Homo sapiens: one gene and its partners. The protein of the gene in region 3 purifies or fractionates together with the protein of the main gene of each other region. This does not show direct contact. Each region holds a gene or a part of one and is shown on either strand. Other genes may lie near its edges.

Region 1 (2,875 bases), on a different chromosome or scaffold from region 3:
GTACATATACTCATAGATGACAAACTAGAAGTACTATACTGGGGAAAAATGAAGACACAAAACCCCTGCTGCTTGTATGGCTACGATACTATTTTTTTGAGACAGAGTCTCACTTCTTCATCCAGGTTGGAGTGCAGTGGTGTGGTCTCAGCTCACTGCAACCTCCGCCTCCCAGGTTCAAGCAATTATCCTATCTTAGCATCCCTAGTAGCTGGGATTACAGGCATGTGCCACCACACCCAACTAATTTTTGTATTTTTAGTAGAGACGGGGTTTCGCTATGTTGGCCAGGCTAGTCTTGAACTCCTGACCTCAAGTGATTCACCCGCCTCGGCCTCCCAAAGTGCCAGGATTACAGGCATGAGCCACCTCGCCCAGCTGATATTATTATTAATGTGTTTTTGGAGTAAGAGCTTTTGAATGTCTCCTGTGACATTCAGTGCCACTGGCCCAACTTCTGAGCATGGCTTCCTCTGCCTGGACTATCCCTTCTCCACTTGGCAAACTTGAATGTCCCCTCCTTGGAGGAACTGTCTTAGCAGGGGGTGCCCACGGTTGTTTGTTTCTGTCTCCATAACAGCTCACCTCCCTTAGTCATGTGTCCTTGTTCCCGTGGCTGCCTGTTCCCAGAATATGAACTGCTCTTGGGCACAAATCATGCCAATAATTTAATCATCACTATAACTTAATTCCTAGCCTGTCGTAGATGCGCAATACATCCTCTGGATGGAGGAAGGGAGGTACTACTTCTAGGCAAGCTGCCAAATCTCCCACTTGGACTCCCGTTTATGACTGGGGTGATTAGGGGAACATTTAAGGGGGAGGTTATACGTGACATGAGCCTTAAAAAATGAGTGAGGTTTTGATAGATAAATGTGGACAGAGAAACAAAATTGGCAAAGGCATCCAGATAGGTAAGGGCAATAATATTTGGGGAGGTTGGGATCAATGATCTAGTTTGGGTGGAACACAAGGTATATGTAGACCCACAATGAACCCAGATTTGGGGATTCTTGAAGCTAGGACAAGGAATTAGGATGCAGGATGGTTTGGAACAAGAAAGTCTGAAGGCAGGAAGATCAGCTGGAAACGCTGGCCATAGTCCAGACACACACTGACCGAGACCTGAGTGATTTCTCCTAGAATTCCTGAAACCAAAGTTATTTTCAGATCATAAAGAAAAGTTCTGCCCGTAATTTGTGAAACCCTGAGAATGTGATTCTAATTACAAGACACATTACTTTAAATTTCCCCAAAGCAGAAGGGTTACAACCCCATGCTGCTGAGCGGGTCATTCTTCTGCACAGTGGTCAGGGCAGATGCCAAGGGAGAGGACCAACTGCAACTCACAAGAAAGCCAAGACAAGGGGCCAAGGAAGGGCTCCTACCGGCAAAGAGTAGAGGAGCACGGCCACGAAGAGCAGCAGGATAAGCAGGAACAGCAAGCCGATGATGACCCACTTAAAGCGGCGCCACACGATGAACTTCATGGTCTTGCATGGGTTGGTGAACCAGAGGAAGGAGGTTTCTGGTCGACTGCATTGCAAAGAAACAGTATCACCTACCCAACTCAGGAGGGATGCATATTTTATTCCAGAGCATAACACAGTTTCAGGAATAAAGAATCACATTAATAAGGTCAAGAAAAAATACTGTTCCCCTTCGTTGACTGAGAAAGGCTCTTTAACCTACGACAGCTTCCTAAGATGCTGAACTTTGGTTTCCTGGAAAGGAGAATTCTTAAAATGAAGCCAGATCACCAACCTCTCCACCCCCACCCACCACTATTAAATACCAGATTAGGAGGACCACAAAAGCTAATCCATCCCATTAAGCCAATGGGAAGGGGGGCTCTCAGCCTGCAGGTGTTTGGGGAGTGGGAGAACAAAGAAGGCCTCTCACTTTGGTAAGTCCAGCTTGGGGTTCATGTTGGGTTCGTCCCGCCCCTTCCCGGCTGGCCTCTCGTCGGCCTCCTTCTCGTTGAGGATTTCCAATGTCATCTCCACTTTCCCCTTCAGTAAAGCAGAGCAGGTTAAACATATGACATCATGTTTCACAAATATTTTTACTTCAACCCAAGGAGTATTCCCCGAGCAATGATTTTTATTCTTGTAAAACAATCCTTAGATTGCCTTCAGTTTTCCTCAAGAGATTTCATCCCATTTCCTCTTCCATGTGTTTCTGAACTGACTCTGTGTGGGAAACTTTGAGGACAAATTGCTTCCCCCACTCCCTACTTTTCATTTTCTGTATCCCCCTCACTCTAACATTCTCACATTGGTCTCCTTGTCTCCCCACACACCTTCCTATGTAACTTCACTTGGACCCAGACTAACCTGAATACCACTAATAACAATATCTAACATTTATTGAGCATTATTGTAGGCTCCCAGTAAGAGAACAGAGCCATATCTCTTCATGCCTATCAATCATTGTCACCTACTGTGCACAGTGGCTGGCATTCAGTAGGTACTCCATGTACACTAGCTCAATAAATGAATGAATGAGTGAGTGAATGAATGTTTTCTCCCTGCTCACGGGTTCCTGAGTGATGTTCCCAGCACCGTTTAAATGTTCTACATGGGTTATCTCATGTAATGCTCATGGCAACCCTACAAAGGTACTATTATTGTCCTCATGTGCAAATGAGAACAGTGAGGCCAAAGTGAAAGTGGTCTAGAAACTTGCCCACTTTTGGCTGGGCGCAGTGGCTTATGCCTGTAATCCCAGTGCTTTGGGAGGCTGAGGCGGGAGGATCACCTGAGGTCAGGAGTTCAAGACCAGCCTGGCCAACATGGCGAAACCCCATCTCTACTAAAAATACAAAAAAAAAAAAAAAAATTAGCCAGCATGGTGGCGTGCGCCTGTAGTCCCA
Region 2 (3,672 bases), on a different chromosome or scaffold from region 3:
TGAGGTACAGTTACCCACCCCACTCTCCAGTTAGGAAAGTGGATCTTGGAAAGATTAAGTACCTTGACCAAAATGGCACAGCTGCTAAGTATGTTTCCTGCCTCTCTTTTTGTTTTACTCAGATATAATTTCCATACCATAAAATTCCCAGTTATAAAGTGTGTAGTTCAGTGGGTTTTCGTATATTCACAAGGTTGTGCGCCCAACCCCATTACCTAATTTCATCACTCCTCAAAGAAACTCATATCCTTCAGCAGTCGCTCCTATTCCCACTCCCTGCAGCCCTGCGCAGAAAAAGTCTCTGCTTTCTGTTTCTGTGAAGGTGCCTGTTCTGGACATTTCATAGAACTGGAATCACATGCTATGTGGCTATCTGTATCTGGCTTCTTTCACTTCACATGGCGTTTTCAAGGTTTCTCCATGTGGTAGGATGTATCAGTAGTTCATCCTACTGATGAATAACATTCATTGTAAGATAGATCACATTTTGTTTCTGGCTGAATAACATTCATTGTAAGATAGATCACATTTTGTTTCTCCATTCATCAGTGGATGGGCATGTGGATTTTTTCCGATTTTCGTCGTTGTGAATAATGTTGCTATGCACATTCATGTATACGTGTGTTTGTGTGGACAGCATGTGGACTGTTTCTACTTTTCACAGTTATGAATAATGTTGCTATGCACATTCATGTATACGTGTGTGTGGACATCTTCTTTCATTTCTCTTAGGGATTTCATTTCTCTTAGGGATTTCATTTCTTCTTTCATTTCTCTTAGGGATTTCTTTCATTTCTCCACCCAGGAGTGGAGCTGCTGGGTCCTACGGTAACTCTGTGCTTTACTTTTTTAGGAATTGCCAAACTGTTTTCCAAAGAGGCCGCACCATTTTACTTTCCCACCAGCAGCGTGTGAGGGTTCATCCTGTTGTGTTGACTCCAAAGCCCACACTCTCCCTCCAGGCTGTGCCTCCTACCCTGGCCAGCAGGTGCAGCAGCCCGAGACACGGAGCTGGCACGGGTGCCACCGCCTAGCACACAGCTGGCTGGCCTCAACTATCAGTCCTACCTTCAGCGCCTGCTCCTTAAAGTACTGCAGGGCATAAGCAAAGATTTCAAGGGCTTTGACTTTCTTGCCATTTGCTGCCGTCAGGTCTGTATCCATGGTGAGGTCCTGGTAGGAGGAAGAGGAACAATAGTAAGAAGATGACACAGGAGAAACATGTCTCCTGGCTTTGGGGACTGCTCCAAGGGGACCTAGAGGATCCTGGTGAGCCATGTCTGTGTTCCCCCATGCTTAAAGAGGCAGACTAGGATGGCGCATCCCCCAAAATGGGGGCTGGCAGCAGTGTCCCCTTACTGTGTAGGAGGCTCTGGCTGTCCCCTCCAGGCCCCACCTTCACTGCTCCCTCCTTCTCTCCCTCTAGCTCCTGGATCCTCTGGGAGCAAAGGTTTCAGGGGCAACAGTAGAAGTCAGGAAGAGAGAATAGGCAGCAGGTGCCACTCCCCATGCAATTTCCGTACAATTTCCACATTCGAACACACATGGTCACGCTCAGGATCCCCCCTGATGGAGGCCTAATCGTACCAACCCACTGCCATCCACGATGCTAAACAGACGAAGCTTTCATTCCCCATTACGCTGCCAACCAAGTCACCAAAATAGAAGAGCTCCTATTTTAAGGCTTGCCCTATCTAATCCGCCAGGAGCCCAGCATCACTGCTTTCCTCTCTCCACCAAAAGTGAAAGCAGCTGCTGAGTGTGGTCCCAGAGAGAGGATGCTCTGCAGAGCCTAGATGCTGGTGGACGGAGATCATTAAAAAATGATGAGAAAAGTCCCTGTGGGGTAGGGATGGGCAGGGAGTGAGAGCAAAAATCAGGAGGAAGCCCCCAGGTCTCCTGAACCAACAAACTCATTACTGCCAGGGGGAAAAAAATCACTGGGGCCTCCAGATTGTCCCAGGCTGGGTAATTATGCTTTGCCTTGGGAGTGAAAACGGGCATTGAGTTACTAAGCTAGCCATGTGGAGCCCGTCTGTGGCATCCTGACCTATCTGCACTTGCTCACTCCTCCCAGCCAGCTGCCTTCTGCTCCTGGTGCCCAACAAAGATACCCCAGCTTTAGGGCAGCAGCTCCCAGGCTCAGAAAGGTGGTCAAGTGCCAGGAAACCATGGCTCTGAATTGAAAAAAATCCCTGTGCTTCCTTCCACCTGCCATCCTGATACTCAGCATTGAATCCCATTAGGCAAAATAGGAACAGTTCATTTCTAGCAGAACTTGGTCTGCACCATAGAAGGACAACCACGCCGATGGGCACAGAGCCTTGAAAGGCAGGGTGCTGGCTGCTGAGTTTCCCACTTATGTTTGCTTTGTCATCTGCAAGTGCTCAGCAGACAAATGAAAGCAATTAGAATAGGAGCTTGCACTTGACTAGAACTTAATCTGCACCAGGCATGGCTCTAAGAGCTTTACGTATTTTGATTCCTTTAATCCCTACAAAATCCCCATGAGGAAGGCACTGCTATTGTCTCCATTTGACAGAGAAGATAAAACAAGGCAGGGAGGGGTTACATAACTTGGATTACATTTCTCAAAGGTACCAGTGACCAGATTGAAACCCAGGCCATCTGGCCCCAGAGTCCGTGTTCTTAAACATCATCATCATCCTGCCTTTCTAAGCACTGACAGTTAAGGAAACTTTATGGAATAAAATGCTTAACTCAAAAAAGTTCTGTCCTATGCCCTATCCTTTTCTACGAAGCTTCGGGGTGGCAGGGGGTGCCTGTTTGATGTAGGTGTCTTATGGAACACTGGCTTGCTGGGAGCTGAGGACACCACTCAGGGAGTTGGACCTCCAATTATTGGGCACTTGATGTCCTGAGCTCCCCCTCCCCACATAAAGAGCTGGATGTACCAGTTGTTACTGGTTGTTACATCCAAACTGGTTAGTTAAGAGCTACTGCCCTGAGCTCGCCATGTGTCCCTAGCCCCCAAGTGGATCCTTCATGATACACTGATCTCTCAATAATCCAGAAACTAAAGGGAGAACTCCTGGCACAGCAGGAGGGCCCCAGCACCCCACTTCCCTGGTATAACCAGGGTCTACTCTGATAGGTCCATTTCCAAGACAAACGAGTTGTTAAATATTCAGAATATCTCCCTGCCCACATGCACATTGGAAAGCATCGCATATTCCACAAAAGCACTGTGTGCTCCAGGTTGTGTCTAAAATCAAGGTAAATGGACACTGATTTCTGCTTGGAAGAGACCAGAGGGCCCCCTGGGTTGGGAGGACATCCCTTCCCCACCCCAAGGCTGGAGGAAGCTTGGCACTCCATTGCGGGGGACCTGGGCCCAGGGGAGAGGCTTGCTCACCCCAGTGGTGTGCAGCTTCATCTTGAACTTCTCCAGGTACAGCCACTGCTTGGCCTCATTGGGATCCAGGTCATGGTAAAAGTCCCTGGCGGCATACCCGAAGCTGTGGAACTTCCTCTCGGGAGTCAGCAAGATGGTGGTTGGAGTCTTCTGATTGGACACACCAGGGTCACCTCCCTCCCATCGCCTGCCACCAAGGGAAGCAGAAGTTATGGGGCCTTCTTTCAAAATCCCAATTCAGGCAGCACAGATTTGAACACCTACTGTATGCATGAGTGTCAGTAATGTGGGTGCCC
Region 3 (3,672 bases):
TGCCCAGGTGAAAATGGCCTATGTGAACTTCGTGAACCACTGCTACGTGGACACGGAGGTGGAGATGAAGGAGATCTACACCAGCAACCACATCTGGACGCTCTTTGAGAACTTCACCCTGGACATGGCCCGGGTCTGTCCCTGTGAGGGGTGTGGGTGAAGCCCCCCAGGAGGTGTGGGAGTGGAGGGGCCCCATGTGAGGAGCCCCCAGCCATCCCTCTCTCCTGCCTCAGGTCTGCAGCAAGCGTGAGAAGCGCGTGGCTGACCCCACCTTGGAGAAGTACGTGCTGAGCGTTGTGCTGGACACCATCAACGCCTTCTTCAGCTCCCCATTCTCTGAGAACAGCACTTCCCTGCAGGTGAGCTTCTCCTCTCCCACCACCCCAGGGCCGACTTGCCTAGCTTTTGTGAAGGGAAGGGGGGAAATAAGAATACATATTTATATTTGCTTATAGTACAGAAAGAAGTAACAAAAGGATACATAAGTGTATTGGTTATCTTTTTTTTTTTTTTTTTTGAGATGGAGTTTCACTCTGTCGCCCAGGCTGGAGTGCAGTGGCGCGATCTCTGCTTACTGCAAGCTCTGCCTCCTGGGTTCACGCCATTCTCCTGCCTCAGCCTCCCGAGTAGCTGGGACTACAGGTGCCCGCCACCACGCCCAGCTAATTTTTGCATTTTTAGTAGAGACAGGGTTTCACCGTGTTAGCCAGGATGGTCTCAATCTCCTGACCTCATGATCCGCCCACCTCGGCTTCCCAAAGTGCTGGGATTACAGGTGTGAACCACCGCGCCCGGCCTAAGTATATTAGTTATCTATACCGTGTTAACAAATTATCCCCAAACCTAGCAGTTAAAACAACAAGCATTCGCTATCTCAGTTTCTGTGGGCCAGAATGACGGTGGGAATGGTACCATCCAGCAGGAACTCCTAACTCCAGTGGGTGGGCGGATCCCGGAGTGGCAGCACTTATTCACCAAAGATAAGGCAGACGTGCCATCCATGGGATGGTACAGCCAAAGCAGGGATCACGACAGTCTCCCTGGCAGGATCCTTCGTGCTGGCTAGTTGATCATAGTGATCTTAGAACTGAAATAGGCAGGCAGCCTTCTGAAGGCCTAAGCAGAAGGGCTCCAGGCCAGTGTACAGAAGCCTGATTTGAATCTCGAAAGATTCATGGCTCCTTGGTCAATCCCCAGATTCCCAGACTCGAGCCAGTGCTCAGCCCAGAGCCCCCCTGAATGAAAGCGAGCCAGGTTCCCTTAAGGAAGGGCCCTGCTACATGACCGAAATCAAAGAAACACTGGAAGGATACAAAAGAAACCCACAAAAGGGGCTACCTAGGGGCATAGGAGCTGGGGTGGGGTGGGATCGTGCTTCTAAGTCTGGGGGGAAAAATGCTGAGTCCTGCCTTCTCAGGAAGGGTGGTGTATTTTGACACACATTGTTTGGGCCCTGGGATCGCATTGGGACGATGGAACTCTGGTAATTGATATCAGCTTTCCCCATCCTTGATCAGCTCCAGGGCAATGAGGGTGATGGGGGAGAGACTTCTCAAAGTGTTATGTTTTTTTTTTTTGAGACGGAGTCTCACTTGGTGCCCCAGGCTAGAGTGCAGTAGCACAACCTTGGCTCACTTGCAACCCCTGCCTCCCAGGTTCAAGCAATTCTCCAGCCTCAGCCTCCTGAGTAGCTGGGATTATAGGCACCCGCCACCACGCCCGGCTAATTTTTGTATTTTTAGTAGAGACAGGGTTTCACCATGTTGGCCAGGCTGGTCTCGAACTCCTGACCGCAAGTCATCCACCCACCTTGGCCTCCCAAAGTGCTGACATTACACGTGTGAGCCACTGCGCCCAGCCTCAAAGTGTTATCTTTTAAATAACCTTTTGGTTTTTCAACCATGTAAATCCATCACCTTTTTATGACATTAATTTTTTTAAACATTTTTTAAAAGGGTCAGCAACATGGCTATGAGCCCACGGCCTTGGTGAGTTACAGGGCTGCCGTGTACAGTTGGGCAGGTCGTGCACTGCTGAAGGGAATACAAGTACCTTTTTCCAACTGGCACAGAGGCACATGGTGGCTAGTGAAGGCTCCGTCTCTCCACCCATGCCCATTCTGATTGGGCCCTGGTTCCTGGACCTGGGGTTGCCCAGGGTGGGGGCCTGGGCTGCAGCAGCGGGCTCTGTGACTTCTTGCAGACACACCAGACGATTGTGGTGCAGCTGCTGCAGTCTACCACACGCCTCCTCGAGTGTCCGTGGCTACAGCAGCAGCACAAGGGCTCCGTGGAGGCCTGCATCCGGACCCTCGCCATGGTGGGTGAGTGTGCCGGGGCACTGGCCAGCCCCAAACCACTCCTCCTGCCGCTCACAGTGGGGACGCCTGCCCTCCTAATAAACACTTTATCCCTAAGCTCGCCCATCTCCTGCTCCCAGGTGGTTGTCAGTAAGTTCTTCTTGGCGTCTGCCTCATCCTGGCAATTGAGAGAAGCTGTTTTCTCCTCTGGGTCAGTTCCCCAGAGAAGGATGCTCGCCGACATTCTCCAGCTAGTTTTTTATGGGTATTTGCAGATGGGCTCAGGCAGGAGCAGGCCTGTGGATTGTTAGGGACAGTTGGGGAAGAAGAGAGGACAGGTGAGAGAGAGGAAGGGGAAGTCAGGGTAGAGCCGGGGGGAATCAAAGAGGCAGAAACTCCTTTTACCCAACAAGGGGAAGAAAGCCTCTCAGTCCCTCAAGCATAGGCCGGGGTGGGGGGGGTCTCTGTCTCCCAGACCCTTGGTCTAGTTCACTCTGTCTCCTGGTGTGGCAGCCCTGAGCCTGGCCTCTGGCTGGCTGAACTGCCCCCGCACCAGCACTCCAGCACTCCCTCCCTTCCCACCCAGCCAAGGGCCGGGCCATCTTGCTGCCCATGGACCTGGATGCCCACATCAGCTCGATGCTCAGCAGTGGAGCCAGCTGTGCAGCTGCCGCCCAGCGGAACGCCTCCAGCTACAAGGCAACCACGCGGGCCTTCCCCCGCGTCACCCCCACCGCCAACCAGTGGGACTACAAGAACATCATTGAGAAGCTGCAGGTGGGTGTGGGGCTGCCTGGCATCTGCCTCGGGAGCTGCTTGGTTGAGTCAGCAGCTCCCCTACTTTGGAGGGGCAAGTTCTCGGGGAGTGTTTCTTCCTGTCCTGCCCACACTTCCAGGAAGGGGCTGGTTGGCTTCTCTACACTCTGGGGCTGCTAAGGGCCGACCCAGCAGCAAGGGACTGGGGAACCTCCTTCCAGAGGAAGCCTGGAGAACCCAGAGGCCTGCTAGTGGGGTTGGAGCTCATGAGGGGGTCGGGACCACCCCTCACTCCTGCAGCGCCCTCCTGTCTATGCAGCACATTTCTGTGCGCTGTCTCGTTGGCCTGTAGAGGGGGTGTGGTGGATTATTTTCCCCACGTGGCAGGAGACTGAGGCTCAGAGAGGCTAAGGGGTTTGCCCAAGGTCACACAGAGCTGGGAGAGAAGCCAGGCTTGGCAGCTCCCAGCCAGGGCTCTGAGCAGACAGACATCACGCTGTGTTCAGGGTGTCTCTGTGGGTGTGGGCCCCTCAGACAGAGGCAGGGCAATCTGTGGGGCTGTTTGGCGTTTGGGTCGGAGGAATGGCAGTCACACCCGGGTCATTTCTTGGGCCTGG

The links. Proteins that work in one complex are often made in the same cells at the same time.
Region 1: the proteins of ITPR3 (region 3) and MYOF purify together in Homo sapiens (affinity purification with western blotting, with the first as the bait; one study listed by BioGRID). This does not show direct contact.
Region 2: the proteins of ITPR3 (region 3) and HSPA12A purify together in Homo sapiens (affinity purification with mass spectrometry; one large-scale study listed by BioGRID and IntAct). This does not show direct contact.

What each region holds. Positions count from the first base shown.
Region 1 is NC_000010.11:93,308,632-93,311,506, forward strand, and holds part of MYOF (myoferlin), read right to left. Parts: intron 2,013-2,875; coding exon 1,903-2,012; intron 1,537-1,902; coding exon 1,389-1,536; intron 1-1,388. UniProt on the Homo sapiens protein: Calcium/phospholipid-binding protein that plays a role in the plasmalemma repair mechanism of endothelial cells that permits rapid resealing of membranes disrupted by mechanical stress. Involved in endocytic recycling.
Region 2 is NC_000010.11:116,697,567-116,701,238, forward strand, and holds part of HSPA12A (heat shock 70 kDa protein 12A), read right to left. Parts: intron 3,564-3,672; coding exon 3,377-3,563; intron 1,174-3,376; coding exon 1,069-1,173; intron 1-1,068. UniProt on the Homo sapiens protein: Adapter protein for SORL1, but not SORT1. Delays SORL1 internalization and affects SORL1 subcellular localization.
Region 3 is NC_000006.12:33,680,322-33,683,993, forward strand, and holds part of ITPR3 (inositol 1,4,5-trisphosphate-gated calcium channel ITPR3), read left to right. Parts: intron 1-7; coding exon 8-133; intron 134-233; coding exon 234-359; intron 360-2,202; coding exon 2,203-2,323; intron 2,324-2,885; coding exon 2,886-3,076; intron 3,077-3,672.